Regions from separate parts of the Homo sapiens genome. Here region 1 is linked to region 2. A link means that fine-mapping ties the variant in region 2 to the expression of a gene that starts in the linked region. Tissue or cell type: whole blood. Region 2 holds a variant in brackets; the other region holds the start of a gene. All regions are shown on one strand. Distances are from middle to middle. Region 1 holds the start of LINC02175 (long intergenic non-protein coding RNA 2175). Region 2 has its middle 11 kb from the start of ARHGAP17.

Evidence for each region. PIP is the estimated chance that this variant, and not a neighbour inherited with it, causes the effect. A credible set is the group of variants that fine-mapping cannot tell apart.
Region 1: it holds the start of LINC02175, and the variant in region 2 is the best candidate, but not a certain one, in a credible set for the expression of LINC02175 in whole blood (TOPMed, PIP 0.87).

What each region holds. Positions count from the first base shown.
Region 1 is chr16:25,064,388-25,069,603 of GRCh38, reverse strand. LINC02175 (long intergenic non-protein coding RNA 2175) reads right to left here and starts at 2,717. Exons shown (of 2, transcript NR_135197.1): 1 at 1,958-2,717; 2 at 649-1,825. It also overlaps the pseudogene SCML2P2. RefSeq lists a silencer at 2,425-2,814.
Region 2 is chr16:25,023,649-25,029,142 of GRCh38, reverse strand. No RefSeq gene overlaps it. Among named protein-coding and RNA genes, the nearest start is that of ARHGAP17, 11 kb to the right of the region's middle. The variant G/T (reference allele first, on the strand shown) is at 3,233.

The DNA of each region.
Region 1 (5,216 bases), 41 kb before region 2:
TTCCACTGGAAATTGTCATTTTTCACAGGAGACTTTTCGTTTTTTTGGTGACAAGGTCTGGCTCTCTGTCACCGAAGCTGGAGTGCAATGGCACCATCTTGGCTCACTGCACCCTTGACTTCCCATACTCAGGTGATTGTCCCACCTCAGCCTCCTGAGTAGTTGGGACCACAAGAATGCACCACCACGCCTAGCTAACTTTTTCTTTTATTTATGTATTTTCAGATAGGGTCTTACGCTGTTGCCCATGCTGGAGTGCAGTGGTGTGATTATGGCTCACTGCAGCCTCCAACTCCTGGGCTGAATCTATCCTCCTACCTCATCCTCCCGAAGTGCTGGGATTACAGGCATCAGCCACCATACCTTGCCTTAATTTTTAAAAATTCTTTGTAGAGATGGAGGTCTCTCTACATTGCCCAGGCTGGTCTTGAATTCCTGGGCTCATGCAATCGTCCTGACTCAGCCTCCCAAAGTGCTGGGATTACGTGCACGAGCCATCATGCCCTGCCTTAATTTTTAAAAATTAACTGTAGAGACAGGGTCTCCCTCTCTTGCCCAGGTTGACCTTGAACTCCTGGGCTCAAACTATCCTCCTGCCTCAGCCTCCCAAAGTGCTGGGATTGCAGGCATAAGCCACTACACCCAGCCTAACATGAGGCATTCTTTTTATTTTTTTTTGAGACAGGGTCTCACTCTGTCATACAGGCAGGTGGGTGGTGACAGCGACCATGACCACGGGTCAACCTGGGCCTCAGACACTGGGGAAAGGTGGCCATGTCCAGTTTTCTCAGGAAATTAGGAGGCAGGTCATCCGAGGAGAGAGGGTGTGTCTGGGGTAGGGTGGAGTAGCTTTCAGAAAAGTGTAAGTCTGGCAAAAGCACTCAGGAAAATGGGACAGAAAATGAGCCAAGCGCTGGATGGCAGCGTTCATTCAGCCCAGCTGAGCTTGGAGGCCATGAAATGCTGGCAGCCCCACACTGCAAGACTGCAGGGTCTTTCTGGGCCACGCCCCGAATCCCAGGTATGGAAGTGAAGGACCCAAAAAGAGGAACGAATCAGGCTGTTATTCTGCAGAACAGGTGAAAGAAAAAAGCCAAGTAGACAGAGCCTTGGAAGTCAAAGAGTCACCCACATGCCTGACCCAGTCAGAAGAAAGGGGACCAAGCCAGGGCGGGAGGGACTGTGTGGGAAAGAGGAGGCTGAAAGGAGGAGAGACCGCGGGCAGAGGTGGACAAGGGACCAAGGTGAAGACCTTTGAGGTGCTTCTTGAACCACAGTGGTGAATGTCTTTCTGGACAAGAGTGCCAGTGCCCACCGCCATCACAGGACACAGCCCCATCCGCACTCCCGGGACAGCAACATCTCATTGTCCCAAACTCTGCCAATTTCATCAGTGAAAAGTGGAGCCTGGAAGCTTTGCATTTCTTCAATGACTTCGAATTTTTTAAAATGGTCTCACAGATTTCCTGGTCATCGGTATTTCATCTGAAAAGTCTCTTTCTGTGATATCTGCTCATTAGAGCGGAGTTCTTAAAATTATTAGAGAGTGTTATACATTCAGTATATTCACCTCTGTGGTGGTTGCTCTCAGTTTTGTCCAGTTAGTCATTCATCATAAATTTAACTTTGATATCATAATAAAACAGACAAAAGTGTAGTTATTATGTGCTTAAATCTACAGGTGCTTTTTTAAAAAGTTCTTTTTAGAGACAGGGTTTTGCCCTGTCGCCCAGGCTGGAGTGCAGTGGCGCGATCTTGGCTCACTTCAGCCTCCACCTCTTGGGTTCAAGCCATCCTCCTGCCTCAAACTCCAGAGCAGCTGGGACTACAGGTGAAAATATCACAATTATATGTTAGAGAGAGAGAGAATGAATCATTGTAAAACAATGAAAAGGTGAAGAATGTCTGTTACCTGTGTAAGTAACATCTACATCAACCCTCACCTGAAGTTCCTCACCTCTTCCCTTGCTCTTTTCTTCAGCCCAAACACGGTGTTCAACGTTCTTCCCAGTCACCGCCCAAGGCCGCTGTCTTAGCCCTGCCGTCATCACCTCTCTGAGCCTACTGCAGTAGCTTCCTATCTGGGTTCCCTTTCCATTCCTCCCGGGTCCCGACTCCATCGGCTGCCAGTTGACTTCCCACAGCACCAACTTTTCTCAGCCTTCTGCCTATGAGAGCTCCCCAAATTCTACCACGGGAGCCCTCAAACCATGATCCTCCCCAAAACGTGAACAGCAGCTTCTCGAACCATGGACAGATGGCACAGATGACAACCGAAGCCAATCACCACTGCCTGTCCCTGGAAGTGGACGCTCCGGGTCATGGGTGGCCATGTATCTCGGTCCTGCTATCCTGGGTGGTTGGAGGAATTCTAGCAGTGAGAGTTGAAAACCGCTCGGCGCGCGGCAAGAGAGGATGAAGCCCGAGTCTGACCTGGGAAGGGAGCTGCTCCCCGGGCAGTGGACCCCAGGGCTGGCGGGGAGGCGGCCTCGGTCAGCCCAGTTGGTCTCGGGCCGCTGGGCCTCAGCCCCCAAGCCTGGTGCCCGCTGGCCCCGGAGGAGCTGTCCCGCCCCCTCCGGCACTCGCCTTCCGGGGCTTGGTCGGCTAGCTGCTTCACGCGCGCGGGCTGGGGGCCCCAACGGCGGACGAGCGCTGCTCCCACCGCTCCAGCGCCCAGACTGTAGCGGCTCCGCCTCCGCGGTCCGTTGGCCCCGCCCCCACGTCTCTTCCGGGGCCCCGCCCACCCCCTTCGGGCCCGCCCAGCACGGCCTCCCCTTGTGGCCTGGAGCCCCAGGCCGAGGGCGCAGAGACCAGAAGGCCGAGCTGGGCGGCGACCCCCGTTCTTGCCCGGTCACTTCCTGCGGCGCCGCCTGCCCGCTGGCAAACTGTGGCTGGGAGACCCTTTAAATAGAACGTATTAGCCAAAACTAGAAGAGCAAAATATGTACCATGTTTCAATTTAATGGGATTGCCAGGTGTTTTAAGGGTCCGCCGCAACGGTCCCTCGAGTCCCGGGGTTTTTGTCCCCATCAGATCATTCGTGGTGTGGATCTTCCGGGAGGTTATGGGAAAGGGAGACCAGCAGCCGGCTCCGTGGGCGGCCATACTGCTCCCCCAGGAAGGCCAGGCAAATCTTCAGTGCTGGGATCCCCCTAGTACGTTCATTTTGTCTAGGGTCCAGGTGGGGCCATCGAGCCCCTTGCCCACAGGATTGGTCCTTTGGCATGCAGATAAGCAACACCGCCAAGAAAAGCCCATGGGGTCTTTAGGCTGTTAGGAGACCACCAGGGAGCCATTCCTAAATCTTCCCAGGTGATGGTTCCAAAAACCCTGGTGTTTGGGGAAAGGAAAAAGGGTTATCCACAGGACTATGCTGGAACACTTTCCCAAACAGTGTCTGCCTGGCTGTCCCAAGCAGCCGGTGATGGAGCGATGGTCATGAGGCTAGACCAAAGACCACAGAGTCTAGCCTCACTCTAGTGGAACTCAGGCACCCACCCGTTAGGATGTCGTGTTGCTGCTGCCCCCAGGTGGGAGCCTGGGAAACCACCTGGCCGACACGGGCCACACCTGATGGGACCTCACAAGGAGATACAGTCCATTAACGTTCGTCAGGGTGGGAAGAAGTGGCAACACCTACTGAGATAACAAAACTCATTAGCTGAAGGGCAAGCTGGCCAGCAACTGGCAGTGATGTTCTCAATAGTCCTGGCCGCCTTATAAAACCAGCTACTTAGGCCGGGCACGGTGGCTCACTCCTGTAATCCCAGCACTTTGGGAGGCTGAAGTGGGTGGATCACAAGGTCTAGGAGTTCAAGACCAACCTGGCCAGTATGGTGAAACCCCGTCTCTACTAAAAATACAAAAATTAGCCTGGTGTGGTGGTGGGCGCCTGTAGTCCTAGCTACTTGGGAGGCTGGGGCAGGAGAATCGCTTGAACCCGGGAGGAGGAGGTTGCAGTGAGCTGAGATCGCGCCACTGCACTCCAGCCCGGGAGACAGAGCAAGACTCCGTCTCTAAATAAATAAATAAACAAACAAACAAAACCAGCTACTTAGTAAAGGAGCAGCTAGTTAAAGCTAACCAGGGGTCCTCAATCAAGGATGGGCCACACTGTTTGTGATGCCAATCGTTTTATTCACACTCTTTACTCCATTGATGAAAGAGGGATTCCTTCCCCCCACGCTCCTGCCCCCGCCCCTGTCCCCACCCCCAGAGATACGGGGATGGCCGAACACACAACACTTGATGCAGGACGGATGCAATCAACAGCAGCTGACTGGTCACAGATACTCCAGTCCAGGGGAGAAGGACCCTGCACACTATGCAGGGCAATGTGGAGGCTACACTCCGGAACACGGTAACAAGGAGGGGCTGCTGGAGGCAGGCTTTGTAGTAACAAAAGTGCAGAGTGAGCCCTGGTTCCCACGGGAGGGTGTGACTGGCTTGTCTGAATAATTCGTCCTTGAGCTGGCAGGGAACTGAAGCCTACTGTTTGGGGATAAGCAGGCTCTGTGTCTGATCCCTAAAATAAGGAGAGTGTTTAGCCAGAGAATTTCATCTGCGGAAGCAGACAGGGAGCGAGGCTTGGAGTTCAGCCATTTGAGGCCCTCTTGATTTAAATGGATGTAAAGACAGAATTTGATATGAATCCTAATTTCAGGCCTTACACCACAATACACTATTAAAAAGTAAGTTTTCCGAGAACTAGTCATTGAGTTCAGTGTCACAAGATTTTAAATAAACATTCTAAACTCAACTGTGGCATAGTGGTTCACGCCTGTAATCCCAGCACTTTGGGAGGCCAAGATGGGAGGATTGCTTGAGCCAGAGGTTCGAGACCAGCCTGGGTAAGATGGTAAGGCCCTATCTCTACAAAAAAAATATATAAATTAGCCAGGTATGGTGATGAGAGCCTGTGGTCCCAGTTCCATGGGAGGCTGAGGTGGGAGGACCACTTGAGGCTAGGAGGTCAAGGCTGCATTGAGCCATATTCACGCTGCTGGGCTCCAGCCTGGGTGACAGAGTGAGACCTCATCTCAAAAAATAAAGAAAGAAGATAATTTCACCTATTGCTTAACATAGAAAATGGGAGCCCTCAGAATGAGACTCCCTTAACTTCCCCAAGAAACTTAACCATCCTTTTTTACTCTTACAGTTGTGAATGTCCTCCAGTAAAGACCACATGAAACACTTTGTAGTTAAGCAAGTTGGGT
Region 2 (5,494 bases):
TACAGTGAACTATGATTGCACCACTGCACTCTAGCCTGGGTGACAGAGAGAGACCCTGTCTCAAAAAATAAATACATATATACATACATAAAAATAAACCACGGAAATTTATTTATCATGGTTCTGGAGGCTGGCAAGTCCAAGGTCAAGGCAGATTCTGTGTCTGGTGAGGGCCTGCTTTCTGACTCATAGATGATGCTGTCTTGCTGTATCCTCACTTGGTCAAAGGAGCGAGGTGTCTCTCTCAGGTCTCTCTTATAAGGACACTAATCACATTCATGATAACTCTGCCCTCGTGGCCTGATCGCTTCACAAGAGCCCCACATCCTAATACACTGGGAGTTAAAATTTCAGCATTTGAGTTTCAGGGAGACAGAAACATTCAGACCACAGCAATGCCCTAGCCAACAAATGACTCCATCTCCATATTTATAGCAAACTCTTGGGCCATTGTCTAAGAATTGTTCCCTTTGTGCTCATAAAGAACTCTGGGAATCTCTTGCCTCATAAATACTGAAAATATAAACCGAGGTAATAGATAACTCATGTTTTTAAAATGGTCGGGTGTGGTGGCTTATGCCTATAATCTCAGCACTTCGTGAGGCCAAGGCAGGAGGATCACTTGAAGTCAGGAGTTCGAGACTAGCCTGGCCAACATGGCAGTCTCTACTAAGAATACAAAAATTAGCTGGCTACCTGGGAGGCTGAGGCATGAGAATCACTTGAACCCAGGAGGTGGAGGTTGCAGTGAGCTGAGATTGTATCACTGCACTCCAGCCTGGGCGACAGAGTGAGACTCTCTCTCAATTAAAAAAAAAAAAAAAGATATCTCTACATCTACGTATACAAAGGCCACAATATAAGGTCTCACTGTGGCACTCCATATACTCTTGGAAGTCCTACACATTACTGGTAGTGATCAGGGTACTTATTTCACATCTCAGAATCCACAGTGCCTCATGGGCTCTTGGAGAAGGCATTAATAGAACCTTCCACTTCTCTGATATCCCCAAGCAGCAGGCTCGAGAGGCATACGTGCTCCTGGAAGAACTCTTATTTAAGTTACAAAGTGGAAAATGCACATCATCCCTTCACACCTCCACTCCTGTTTCCCTGTCACCACAGTCATCGATTAGTCACACCTCAGCGGGGACCCACAATTCCTATGCCAGTGCCACACAGGTCCCTCAATTGCCTGTATTGGCCAGCCTGGGGGACATCTGTAAAGCTCATGTTTTTGAAGACTACCTCGCCCTGTGGTCCTCTTTCTCGTGGTTAGGTGCTAAACCCAGGAGGTGGAGGCTGCAGTGAGCTGAGATCGTGCCCCACTCCACTCCAGCCTGGGTGACAGAGGGAGCCTCTGTCTCAAAATAAATAAATAAATAAAATAAAAGTAAAATGTTTCTAGTGCAAACTTTGTTGAAGGCATCACCCTGCTATGATTAGGCTTATGGGTTTAAAGTTATTTGGGTAATAGTCTGTTTGGGGTTTGCAAGAAGTGACACGTGGCTGGAGGGTGGTCTATGAGTAGAAAGCAAGGCTCTAAAGGCAAGTCCTCAAATACCCTGTTAAAGTTTGGACTCCAGGCAGTGGAAACTCCTGAAATAATTTAAAGTAGGTAAGCAACGTTATCAGATTTTCATGCCAGAAAGTCCACCCTCATGGCGGTGTGGGGAATGGATTCAAGGGAGGCCAGGAGTGGAACCAGCAAGGTCAGTAAGGAGTCAATTGCCCCAGTCCATATAAGGACAGGAAGGAATGGACCACAGACATGGGGACAGGGAAAAGAGGAACAAAATGTGATATATTCATTGGTTCATTGGATATGAAGGGGGTGTGAAAGAGAGAGAGAGACACAGCACTTTGTTAGGCCGAGGAAGGCAGTTCACCTGAAGTCAGGAGTTCGAGACCAGCCTGGCTAACATGGTGAAACTCCGTCTCTACTAAAAATACAAAAAATTAGCCAGCTGTGGTGGTGCACACCTGTAATCCCAGCTACTCAGGAGGCTGAGGCATGAAAATTGCTTGAACCTGGGAGGTGGAGGTTGCAGTGAGCCCAAGTTGCGCCACTGCACTCCAGCCCAGGTGACAAAGTGAGACTCTGTCTCAAAAATACAGGGGAGAGAGAAAGAGAGAGATCAGTCATGGTTCTGAGGCCTCTTCCTTGGGTTATAAGAAGGCTATAATGGAAGATATTGAGTTTCTTTTACTTTTCTATTATTATTATTATTTGAACAGGGTCTCACTCTGCAGCCTCTACCTCCTGGGCTTAGGAAATCCTCCCACTTCAGCCTCTGGACACACCCACATGAGTGTGCCTAGCTGAGACTACATGCATGTGCCAACATGTCTAGCTGATTAAAAAAAATTTTTTTGTTTTTGAGTTAGAGTCTTGCTCTGTCGCCCAGGCTGGGTGGAGTGCAGTGGCATAATCTTGGCTCACTGCAACCTCCGCCTCCTGGACTCAAGCTATTCTCCTGCCTCAGCCTCCCAAGTATCTGAAATTATAGGTGTGCACCACTACGCCCGGCTAATTTTTTGTATTTTTAGTAGAGATGGGGTTTCACCACATTGGCCAGGCTTGTCTTGAACTCCTGAACTCAAGTGATCCACCCACCTTGGCTTCCCAAAGTACCGGGATTAAAGGCATGAGCCACCGTGCCTGGCTAATTTTTTTGTAGAGACAGGGTTTCCCTATGCTGCCCAGGCTGGTCTCCAACTCCTGGGCTCAAGCAATCCTCCTCCCCAAAATGCTGGGATTACAGGCATGATGCTTCTTTTTTCTTTTTTTTTGAGACAGAGTCTTGCTCTGTTGCCCAGGCTGGAGTGCAGTGGGGCTATCTCAGCTCACTGCAACCTCTGTCTCCCGGGTTCATGCCATCCTCCTGCCTCAGCCTCCCGAGTAGCTGAGACTACAGGTGCCCGCCACCACGCCCAGCTAATTTTTTGTATTTTTAGTAGAGACGGGGTTTCACCGTGTTAGCCAGGATGGTCTCGATCCCCCGACTTCGTGATCCACCCACCTCGGCCTCCCAAAGTGCTGGGATTACAGGCATGAGCCACCGTGACTGGTGATGCTTCTTCTTAAGACATGTTGACTTTGAGATGCTTATGGACATGCTGATAAATGTGTTCAGCAGACAATTAGATAAACCAGTGTGGCATCAGGAGAATGAGGTGGTTAGACATAGACATTCAGATGTCATTGGCATACCAGTGAAAGCAGAATCAT[G/T]GGAGTGGTTGAGCTGGCCCTGACACTGCAGGGAGAATGAGAAGATCCTGTTAGTTAAAGATGGTACCTTGGAGTATGTTTATAGTTAAGAGGTGTCAGAAGAAGCAGCCACAAAAGAGACTGAGAAAGAAGGGTCTGGTGTGAGGAAGGGAACCTGAGGAGAGTGGTATCACTAAAAATGAAGAAGGCAGAAAGAATTTAAAGAATGAGGCTGGGCACGGTGGCCTATGCCTATAATCCCAGCACTTTGGGAGGCCGAGGTGGGCGGATCACGAGGTCAGGAGATCGAGACCATCCTGGCCAACATGGTGAAACCCCCATCTCTACTAAAAATACAAAAAAATTAGCTGGGCTGGTGGCAAGTGCCTGTAATCTCAGCTACTTGGGAGGCTGAGGCAGCAGAATCGCTTGAACCCAGGAGGCAGAAGTTGCAGTGAGCCGAGATCACGCCACTGCACTCCAGCCTGGGCAACAGAGTGAGACTCCGTCTCAATAAAAAAAAAAAAAGAATTTAAAGAATGAGTATGTGGAACATGTGGTTAATATTTATCAGACTTAAGTGAACCAAAGACAAAAATATATATACATTGGATTTAGCCATGAGAAGATTCCTGGGGCATAAATGAGACAAGATTTTGTAGAACTTTCAAAAAGAAGTCATTACAAAATGAGACACTTATAAAGAGTAAAGAATTCTTTCAGAAGATAGAAAGATAGAGAGATACGGTGGTTGGTTGCTGGAGGAGCTGAAAGGAGAATGTGATGTATCAGGAGAAACAGCCATGCTTGTGTGCTTAGGGATAGAGACAGATGAAAGACAAAGCAGAATGGGAGATCAGTAGAATGAGGTCTTTGAAGAAGTCTGAATAGATAATGTCCAGGGGACTGTTAGCCTTCAATTGCAAAGCTGGATCCCTTTCCTCTGAAACAAAAGGGAAGGAGTATAGATGAATGAAGAGAGGATGGTGGGATACAGGAAGGGGGTATGGGGGTCTTGACTGCTGGTCTCTAATGTCTTAATAAGGCATGATCATGCCTGAGCAAAGTGATAAAGATTTGGAGAGGCCCTTGAGGAAATAAACAAGGGAGTTGCCCATGAACATTTCCTAGGATTTGGGGCACAAACAAATGCTGACGAATAGGAGCTAGTTAAATAAATTACAGTATATGCATAGGATGAACATCTGCTTTTAGAAAGAATAAGATGGCCTGGGTCAGGCGTGGTGGCTCACGCCTGTAATCCCAGCACGTTGGGAGGCCGAGGAAGGCAGATCATGAGGTCAGGAGATCGAGACCATCCTAGCTAACACGGTGAAACCCTGTCTCTACTAAAAATACTGAAAAAAAAAAAATTAGCCGGCCCTGGTGGTGGGCGCCTGTAATCCCAGCTACTCGGGAGGCTGAGGCAGGAGAATGGCGTGAACCTGGGAGGCAGAGCTTGCAGTGAGCCGAGATCGTGCCACTGCACTCCAGCCTGGGCGACAGAGCAAGACTCCATCTAAAAAAAAAAAAAAAAAAAGAAAAGAAAAGAAAAAATAAGATGGCCCGATCTGGTGGCTATGCTTGTAATCCCAGCACTTTGGGAGGCCGAGGCAGGAGGAATATTTGAACCTGGTAGTTTGAGGTTGCCATAGGCTATGATGTGCCACTACACTCCAGTCTGGATGACAGAGACCGACCCTGTCTCTAAAAAAAGAAAGATGATGATGAAATCATTCACAGAATCTGGAAAGATGTCCAAGATGTAGTGAGATATATATATTTGTGTGTGTGTGTATATGTGTATATATGTGTATGTATGTGTATACATAATACATACATAATAAAATAAGAATAAATAGAAAGCAAATCAGAGAATACACTGACATATATGCAAATATGCACTTTTTTAATATGTATATATACGTATATATGTATGTGTGTGTGTGTGTATATATATATATATATATATATATATTTTTTTTTTTTTTTTTTTCCCCAGAAAGCAGCTGGCACAGTGGCTGATGCCTATAATCCCAGCACTTTGAGGGGGCCGAGGTGGGAGGATTGCTTGAGTTCAGAAGTATGAGACCAGCCTAGGCAACATAGGAAGACCTCATCTCTTCAAAAAAATAAAAAAATTAGCAGGGCGTGGTGGCACATGCCTGTGGTCCCATCTACTTGGGAGGTTGAGGTGGGAGGATTGCTTGGGCCTGCAATGTTGAGCCTGCGGTGAGCCATGATCGCGTCACCGCAATCTAGCCTGGGCGACACAGCAAAACT